Linked DNA regions of Homo sapiens: all the other regions are linked to region 3. Evidence: fine-mapped expression QTL. A gene starts in region 3. Each other region holds a variant in brackets. All regions are shown on one strand. Distances are from middle to middle.

Region 1 (2,756 bases), 49 kb after region 3:
CCTCCCAGACTCAAGGAATCCTCCCACCTCAGCCTCCCAAGTAGCTGAAATCACAGGCTTGCACCACTACCACCAGCTAATTTTTATTTTATTTATTTATTTATTTATTTATTTATTTATTTATTTATTTTTTTTTCTGAGACGGAGTCGTGCTCTGTCCCCCAGGCTGGAGTGCAGTGGCACAGACTCAGCTCACTGCAAGCTCCGCCTCCTGGGTTCACGCCATTCTCCTGCCTCAGCCTCCCGAGTAGCTGGGACTACAGGCACCCACCAACACGCCCGGCTAATTTTTTGTATTTTTAGTCGAGATGGGGTTTCACCGTGTTAGCCAGGATGGTCTCTATCTCCTGACCTCGTGATCCGCCCGTCTCGGCCTCCCAAAGTGCTGGGATTACAGGCGTGAGCCACAGCGCCCAGCACCACCAGCTAATTTTTAAATTTGCTGCAGAGAGGAGGTCTTGCTATGTTGCCCAGACTGATCTCAAACTCCTGGGCTTAAGGGATCTTCCTGCCTGGGCCCCCCAAAACTTTGGGATTACAGGAGTGAGCCACTGTGCCCAGTCCAGGACTCGGTTCTAACTGGTTTCTTCCTGCCTTATGGCTGCTCCTTCTCACCTCTCTCCCCGCCTCAGTCTCCCCAAATCCTCTCAGGCTTGCACGCTCAAATGTCTGTCCTCAGCTCTTTGCTTTATCTACACCCTGGTTCTCCAGGTGTGGTCCCAGCACACTGGCATCAGCCTTGCCAGGAACTTGGTAGAAACACACATTCTCTCTCTCTCTTTCTTTTTTTAAGAGACAGGGTCTTGCTCTGTTGCCCAGGCTGGAGTACAGTGGCACAATGACGGCTCACTGCAACCTCCAGATCCTGGGTTCAAGTGATGCTCCTACTTCAGCCTTTCGAGTAGCTGGGACCACAGGCTCTCGCCACCACGCCCAGCTAATTTTAAAATGTCTTATAGAGACAGGATCTTGCTATGTTGCCCAAGCTGGTCTTGAACTCCTGGCCTCAAATGATCCTCCCACCTCAGTCTCCCAAAGTGCTGGGATTACAGGCGTGAGCCACTGTGCTGGCCAGAAACACACATTCTCTGAGGCAGGCCCTGAAG[C/T]GTGGGAACCCCTGCTCTGTCATATCCAGCTGTCATCCCAGCCTGTCCCATCTCAGGCTGTCCTGGGCTCTCAGTACCATCATTGAGCCAGCACTTTCAAATCTCTTATGTCCAGCCTGGAATCTCTCATCAGAGCCCCCACTACCATTTCCCTGCTGAAAACCAAAACCCTTGTAATTGGCCCAGTTAGCTCCCTGACCCCATTTCTGCTCCAGCCACTCCTGCTATTCCTGGACCACAGCAGGCCTTGCCCCAGGGCCTTTGCACCTGTTGCTTCCTCCACCTGTAGCTTCTGCCAACCCACTGTCCACATGGCTGGCTCCTTCAGGCCTCTGCTCAGATAGAACTATTCACCTGGTGTATAGAATGTCCTCTTCATGGGGCAGGGATCATTGAACTGTTTTGCTCATGGTGGCCGTATCCCCAACTTTTATTTACTTTTATTTTTTTAGAGATAGGGTCTTGCTCTGTCACTCAGGCTGGAGTGCAGTGGTGAAATCATGGCTCACTGCAGCCTCCACCTCCCAGGCTCAAGTGATCCTCCCGCCTCGGCCTCCCTAGTAGCTGAGACCACAGGTATGCACCATCACATCCAGCTAATTTATTTTATTTTGCAAAGATGAGGTCTTGCTATGTTGCCCAGGCTGAACATGAACTTCTGGCCTCAAGAGATCCTCCTGCCTCAACATCCCAAAGTGCTGGGATTACTGCGTGAGGCCATCACCACTGTTGTCTTCATATCCTCAACTTTTAGAATAGGCCTGGCACGTGGCAATGAATTAATTATTTGTTGAATGAATCTCAGATCCCAAAGCTGAGACTCTGCCTTGATTCCTCACCTTCCCTGTCATCCCCCTCACGGAAGCCATCAGCAACTCCTGTGGGCTCTGCCTCTGAAGTACCTCGCGACCTGCCCACTTCTGGCTCTAAGCACAGCACCCAGGCCCATGCACCATCCTATGTCACCTGTATGTTGTCCTGGCCTCCTTGCCCGCCTCCCAATCCGCCCTTCACTCAGAGCTAAGGGACCACATGATGATGTTGATCCGAACATTAACTGACCCCCTGGTCTCTGCTGGGGTCTCAGTTCCTCACTAGAGCCCAGAGGCTGTGGGTGAACTGGTGCCACCAAGCTCTCCAAGCCCCATTCTGTCCTCCCTCCTGTTCCTGAAACATTCAACATTCCAGTTCCAGTCCCCAAGCAGGATCCCTGCATGTCGGCTGCGGCTGCTCATTGTTCAGGGCTCAGCCGCAAGGTCACCCCAGCAGAGTGACCTACCCTGACCCCCTGCAAACAAAACAGTCCTCGCCTGCTGCCCTCACCCGCCATCCTTTTCCCTGTTTTTAATTCACAGCTCTCAAGTGAGCACCTGAAATTACCTTTTTATCAACACGAGCTTCTTGAGAGAGGCCCTTACAAATCAGCACACGGCTGGGCACGGTGGCCCGTGCCTGTAATCCCAGCACTTTGGGAAGCCGAGGCGGGTGGATCACCAGAGGTGGGAGTTCGAGACCAGCCTGGCCAACATGGTGAAACCCCATCTCTACTAAAAATACCAAAAAATTAGCCGGGCGTGGTGGCGGGTGCCTGTAATCCCAGCTACTCGGGAGGCTGAGGCACGAGAACTGGTTGAACCTGAGAGGTAGAGG
Region 2 (2,756 bases), 40 kb before region 3:
TGGGGCACCCCACTTGCCTGAATTTTTTTAAAAGACAGGGTCTGGCTCTGTGACCCAGGCTAGACTGCAGTGATGCAATCACAGCTCACAGCTCACTTCTGGGCTCAAGCGATCCTCCTGCCTCACCCTCCCGATGAGCTGGGAACACAGGGGTGCACCATCACGCCCAGCTAATTTTTAGTTTTTTTTTTTTTTTTTTTTTTTTGAGACAGAGTCCTGCCCTGTTGCCCAGGCTGGAGTACAATGGTGTGATCTTGGCTCACTGCAACCTCCGCCTCCTGGGTTCAAGTGATTCTCCTGCCTCAGCCTCCCAAGTAGCTGGGATTACAGGCGCCCACCACTATACCCAGCTAATTTTTTTTGTGTGTGTTTTTAGTAGAGACGGAGTTTCACCATGTTAGTCAGGCTGGTCTCGAACTCCCGACCTCAGGTGATCTGCCCGCCTTGGCTTCCCACAGTGCTGGGATTACAGGTGTAAGCCACCGCGCCCGGCCAGTTTGTTTTTTTTTTTTTTTTTTTAGAGATGGGGTCTGGCTATGTTGCCCAGGCTGGTCTGGAACTCCTGGCCTCAAGCCTCCACTTCCCAAGGTGCTGGCATTACAGGTGTGAGCCATTGTACCCAGCCCCAAAGTTTCAAAGCCAGTCGGTGGCAGAGCTGGGACTGGGGCCCAGGCTGAGCCTGAGGGTGCTCCCACCACAGTGTCATGACTCCGGGCCAACCAAAAGCTCCTGTGTAGGAGATGCTGGACCAAGTCGGGGGATGGTCGGGTCTTCCCAGCAAGGTGGTTGAGCTGAGGGCAGAGGTGGGGTCCCCAACCTCTCTCCGGCCATCAGTGCCTACAATGATTGCCTACGGTGATTACCTACTCACCAAAGTGTGATCTTGGCCAAGACACATCCCTTTTCCCAGCCTGTTTCCTCACCTCTCCTACAGAGGGTGCCACTATCTCAGGGTGTGACTGATGGGGATTCTGGGGCCTGGTGGATGGTGGGCACTTTGCACCTGTCATAGATGTGAGCTGAGATGGCTTCACCACCCCTCATCTGAACCCTCAGAGTTAGGCAAGTCTGGGTTTGGGAGAGGAAGCATGGGCTATAAATGCTAAGTGAGGGCAATCCTGGGTGAGG[C/G]TATGGACAGCACCTGGGAACAGGAACCAAATACATTCGTTTTTCTGCCTTGGAATTTGCGAAAACTCACACTAACTGGGATGAGGAGCGAAAAGGAGGGTCGTCTGGCAGGGCGGTTTGTGTTCTGTGGCCAAGATGTTCCCGTGAGGCTCGGGATTTTGGAAGCCCATGGGATTCTGGAACCGCGGGGTTGGGGCTGGACAGCAAGGGGGCTTGAGGTGTTGGCCTCAGTGTGGCCGGCGCGTCCAGCTTCACCACCTGGCCTGACTTAAGGAACTTCTAGATTATTCTGACAACAAGCAGGGCTCCCCAGGGAATAGGATGGGTGAGCAGGGAACGGTCTGTTTCTTCCAGGGCTGTGTCCCCACATCCGGACCTCACCTTCCCAGAGACGATCTTCTCATAGATCTGGATGGGCTGGTCTGCGAAGAAGGGCGGGTAGCCAGCGGCCATTTCATAGATAAGAACCCCCAGGGCCCACCAGTCCACGGCCTTGTTGTAGCCCTGGAGCAAGATGGGGGGGCACAGGGTGAGGAGGAGGCGAGAGCAGGAGAGCAGAGCCGGCCTCAGGGGAAGGGGAGGGCTGGGGAGGCTCCTACTTTGCTCAGGATAATCTCAGGGGCCAGGTACTCAGGGGTGCCGCACAAGGTCCAAGTGCGGCCCTTCACGCGCTTGGCGAAACCGAAGTCTGTCACCTGTGGGCACAAGAACAGGCAGTTGGCAGGGAGGAAGGGTCCAGGCCACGGCTTCCCCAGGGCTGCCCCTCGCCCGGCCTGGTGGGCACCTGAATGTAGCCCTGCTGGTCAATGAGCAGATTCTCCGGCTTCAGGTCCCTGTAGATGAGATCCAGCGAGTGCAGATACTCAAAGGTCAGGACGATCTGGGCCGCGTAGAAACGGGCATGGGGCTCACTGATGGGGACAAATGGGGAGGTGAACGTCAGTGGTCATGCCCCAAAATGGTCCAGCAGGTGGCCCTGCAGAGCCTACCCCAGAGGAAGACACCTCCAGTCCAGCCGTCAGAAACGCAAGGCACCTGATTCTTAGATAGCCCGACATGGGAAACAGCCTGTGGGTCCATCCACAGGAAAATGGAATCACAGACTGAGCTATAGTCATACAATGGAATTCCACTCACCACCACCACCGCCAACAGGACAGCCCATGCATCCACTCAACAATGTGGCTGCATTTCAAACTGATTATGTTAAGCAAAAGAAGACACAAAAGAACATGAATGATTCCATTTATATCATGTCCACGCCCAGACAAAACAAAGGCACGGTGTTTGAAGTCAGAAAGGACAACTGCCTTTGGTGGGGAGGTGACGTGTCAAGAGAGGGATTCGGCCCGGTGCGGTGGCTCACCCCTGTAATCCCAGCATTTTGGGGGGTCGAGGTGGGAAGATCGCTTGAGCCCAGGAGTTCGAGACCAGCCTGGGCAATATAGGCAAGACCTCACCTCTGTATGTATGTAGATATGTGTGTGTGTGTGTATATATATATATATATTTTTTTTTGATTAATTTATTTTTTTTAAGACAGTCTCGCTCTCTTGCCCAGGCTGGAGTGCAATGGCATAATCTCGGCTCACTGCAACCTTTGCCTCCTGGAAACAAGTGATTCTCTT
Region 3 (2,756 bases):
ACCTAGGAAGAGCTCCAGAGAAAAAAGATGGATGAGGTTCCCCACGCGGGAAATGGGGCTTGGAGGGGGTTAATCTCTATGGGGAGGTCGGGGCGGGCAGTGGGGGAAGAGGCCACTGGGAGGTCCGAGTTAGCTGGCGGGGGGTCTCCACCCGGGAGGTCAAGGCGGGCAGTGGGGGAGGAGGTCACGGGGAGGTCCGTGTTGGCTGGTGGCGGGGGGTCTCCACCGGGAGATCCGGTTGACTGGCGGGCTGGGGGAGATCGGGGTTGGCGGAAGGGGGACGAGGGGTTTCATGGGGGAGATCAAGTTGGCCATGGGAGCGGTTCTCTGAGGGGAGGCCGGGGTCGGCCCGGGGGTGGGGGTCCCCGCACAGGCCCAGCCTCACCGTCCGCCAGGGCTTCACTGCACTCGAAGCTGATCTCGAACCGGAAGGGGCTGTGGAAAGGGCTCGGGTTCTCCAGGACCGCCACGTTCAGCACCGACACCTTGGCCATCGCCTCGCCTCGCCGCGCCGCAGCAGGGGCAGGGGCTGTGGCTGTGGCGGAGGCCGCGCCTGGGTCCGGTGGGGTCAGTGGGGTAGGGCTGACCAGGTCCACTCCCGCCTCTTCTCTCCGAGAACTGAAGTGCGCACCTAGTCCGCGCGCCGCCTTCAAATAGCCGGCCTCCGCCCTCTGGCCAATCACCGCCAACGCTCCCTGGCGGCGCGCGCACCCCCTCAGCCAGTCCTGGAGCGCCGATCGGCGCGCGCCCAGACTCCTCGGACCAATCAGCGGAGCTCCCTCTCCGCAGCGTGTGAGGAGGGCGAAACTATCTCCAAGCTTCTTAGCGTGTCCGCTGGAAACCAATCCCCAGCGTCTCCGACTTGGATGTCAACGGCGGGAATGGACGGAGTCACAGCGCCGGCCTCCTTCTGGCCAATCCTGAGGGTTCCCGCACCGGCGTGGCCCGCCCCTCGCCTCGCTTTTCCGGGAGATGCATCCCGCAGCGCGCAGCGCCGCCACCCGCCGAGCGGTGGCGCGCGGCGCTCGCTAAAGAAGGCGGGAAGGGCGGTGCTCGCACCCGAAGTGATTGGCAGGAGGGAGTGGGGCGGAGATAAAGAGGGTTTTCTGAGAGTTTATTGGCTGGATTGGTAATGGTGGCGGGAGCAGAAGGAGGCTCAGCTGGGGATTCGCTGGAGAGAAGCGGAAGTCGAGCGCCACCGCGGTGTTGGCGAGTGTGAAGAGAGAGGAGGAGCGTTTGCGGCCTCAGCGTCTGTCAACAGGTGAGCGTTTCCTGGAGCTTTTCTGAGTGGCTCCTGACCCTTGAGGTCCAGCGGCGCGGGAGTCCGTTGTGAACGTTGCGAACGTTCGGAGTGGCGGTCACGAGGCGCGCTCAGACCTCGGGAATCCGGCCGGGTTCGGATCCCGCTTTCGCCCCCGAGGGGTTCGGATCCCGCTCTCGCCCCCGAGGGGTTCGGATCCCGCTCTCGCCCCCGAGGGGTTCGGATCCCGCTCTCGCCCCCGAGGGGTTTGGATCCCTCTCTCGCCCCCTTGAGGGCTCTTGGGAGGTTTCAAGCGGACGGTACTGAAAATGGGAGTTCCAGTTCGGGGGCAGACCAGTGTTCAGAGTCCGGGCTCTGCTACTCAGCGCCCGAGGCAGCGCCTCCCCATTCAACGGGGGCCGTGGCAATTCCCTGACATGATTCATGACCACATAATACATCCGGAAACTTCTCTCCACCGCCTCCCGTCTGGGCCGTCGCCCCCGGCCTGGGAGACTCCAGGTCTCAGAGTCTCTGCCCCCACGGGCGATCAGTGCTGCCCAGTGGAAAAATAATGCCAGCCGCGCACCAAAATTAGGTGTAAAATTAACATTTTTTGGAAGCCACTTTTTTTTTTTTGAGATGGAATCTCGCGCTGTCACTCAGGCTGGAGTGCAATGGCGCGATCTCGGCTCACTGCAACCTCTACCTCCCGGGTTCAAGCGATTCTCCTGCCTCAGCCTCCTGAGTAGCTGGGATTACAGGTGCCCACCACCACAACCAGCTAATTTTTTTTCTGTATTTTCAGTAGAGACGGGGTTTCACCATGTTGGCCAGGCTGGTCTCGAACTCCTGACCTCAAGTGATCCGCCCGCCTCGGCCTTCCAGAGTGCTGGGATTACAGGCGTGAGCCACTGTGCCCGGCCATATCTTTTTTTATTATTATTTGTAATTTTAGAGGCTGGTCATGGAGGATTTCTTGAGGCCAGGAGTTCAAGATCAGCCTGGGCAACATAACAAGACCTCATATCTACAAAAAATAAAAGAATAAGCCAGGTGTGGTAGTGCATACCTGTAGTGTCTGCTACTCCTGAAGCTGAGGCAGGAGGATCTCTTGAGCCCAGAATGCTCCAGCCACTGCACTCCAGCCTGAGTGTCAGAGTGAGACCCTGTCTCTAAAAATTAAAATTAAATTTTAAAAAAGAAAGTTCAGTTTAGCTGTCTTGATAGCCGCAGTTGAGTGCTCCTGAGCCCGTGTGACAAGTGGCTCCTGTATTACTGGACAGCGAAGGTCAGAAACACATTTGACCAGGTCACTTCTCCGGATGAGAGCATTGTCTTTGAAACTCTATGCTTTGTCTCCTGTTAACCACCCAGCTCCAACTTCAAACCAGGCTAAGTAACCCTCTTTTTGTTAAAATTCTGACAAGCCACTCCCAGTGCAAAGCCTCTGCCCAGAACCTCTTCTCCTAGGCTCTTGGCATGGCTTATGCCTTCTTGTCATTCAAGTCTCTGT

What was found.
Region 1: its variant is fine-mapped to the expression of ADGRL1-AS1 in whole blood (TOPMed, PIP above 0.99).
Region 2: its variant is fine-mapped to the expression of ADGRL1-AS1 in whole blood (TOPMed, PIP above 0.99).

What each region holds. Positions count from the first base shown.
Region 1 is chr19:14,184,520-14,187,275 of GRCh38, forward strand. All of the region lies in intron 1 of ADGRL1 (adhesion G protein-coupled receptor L1), which reads right to left. Among named protein-coding and RNA genes, the nearest start is that of ADGRL1, 20 kb to the right of the region's middle. The variant C/T (reference allele first, on the strand shown) is at 1,107.
Region 2 is chr19:14,095,852-14,098,607 of GRCh38, forward strand. PRKACA (protein kinase cAMP-activated catalytic subunit alpha) reads right to left here. Exons shown (of 10, transcript NM_002730.4): 6 at 1,913-2,039; 7 at 1,728-1,823; 8 at 1,510-1,632. Among named protein-coding and RNA genes, the nearest start is that of SAMD1, 6.5 kb to the left of the region's middle. The variant C/G (reference allele first, on the strand shown) is at 1,129.
Region 3 is chr19:14,135,963-14,138,718 of GRCh38, forward strand. It overlaps ADGRL1-AS1 (ADGRL1 antisense RNA 1), which reads left to right and starts at 1,190. Exons shown (of 3, transcript NR_045214.1): 1 at 1,190-1,261. It overlaps ASF1B (anti-silencing function 1B histone chaperone), which reads right to left and starts at 627. Exons shown (of 4, transcript NM_018154.3): 1 at 386-627. The coding sequence starts at 494. RefSeq lists a silencer at 393-442 and enhancers at 773-912, 990-1,616, 1,113-1,272.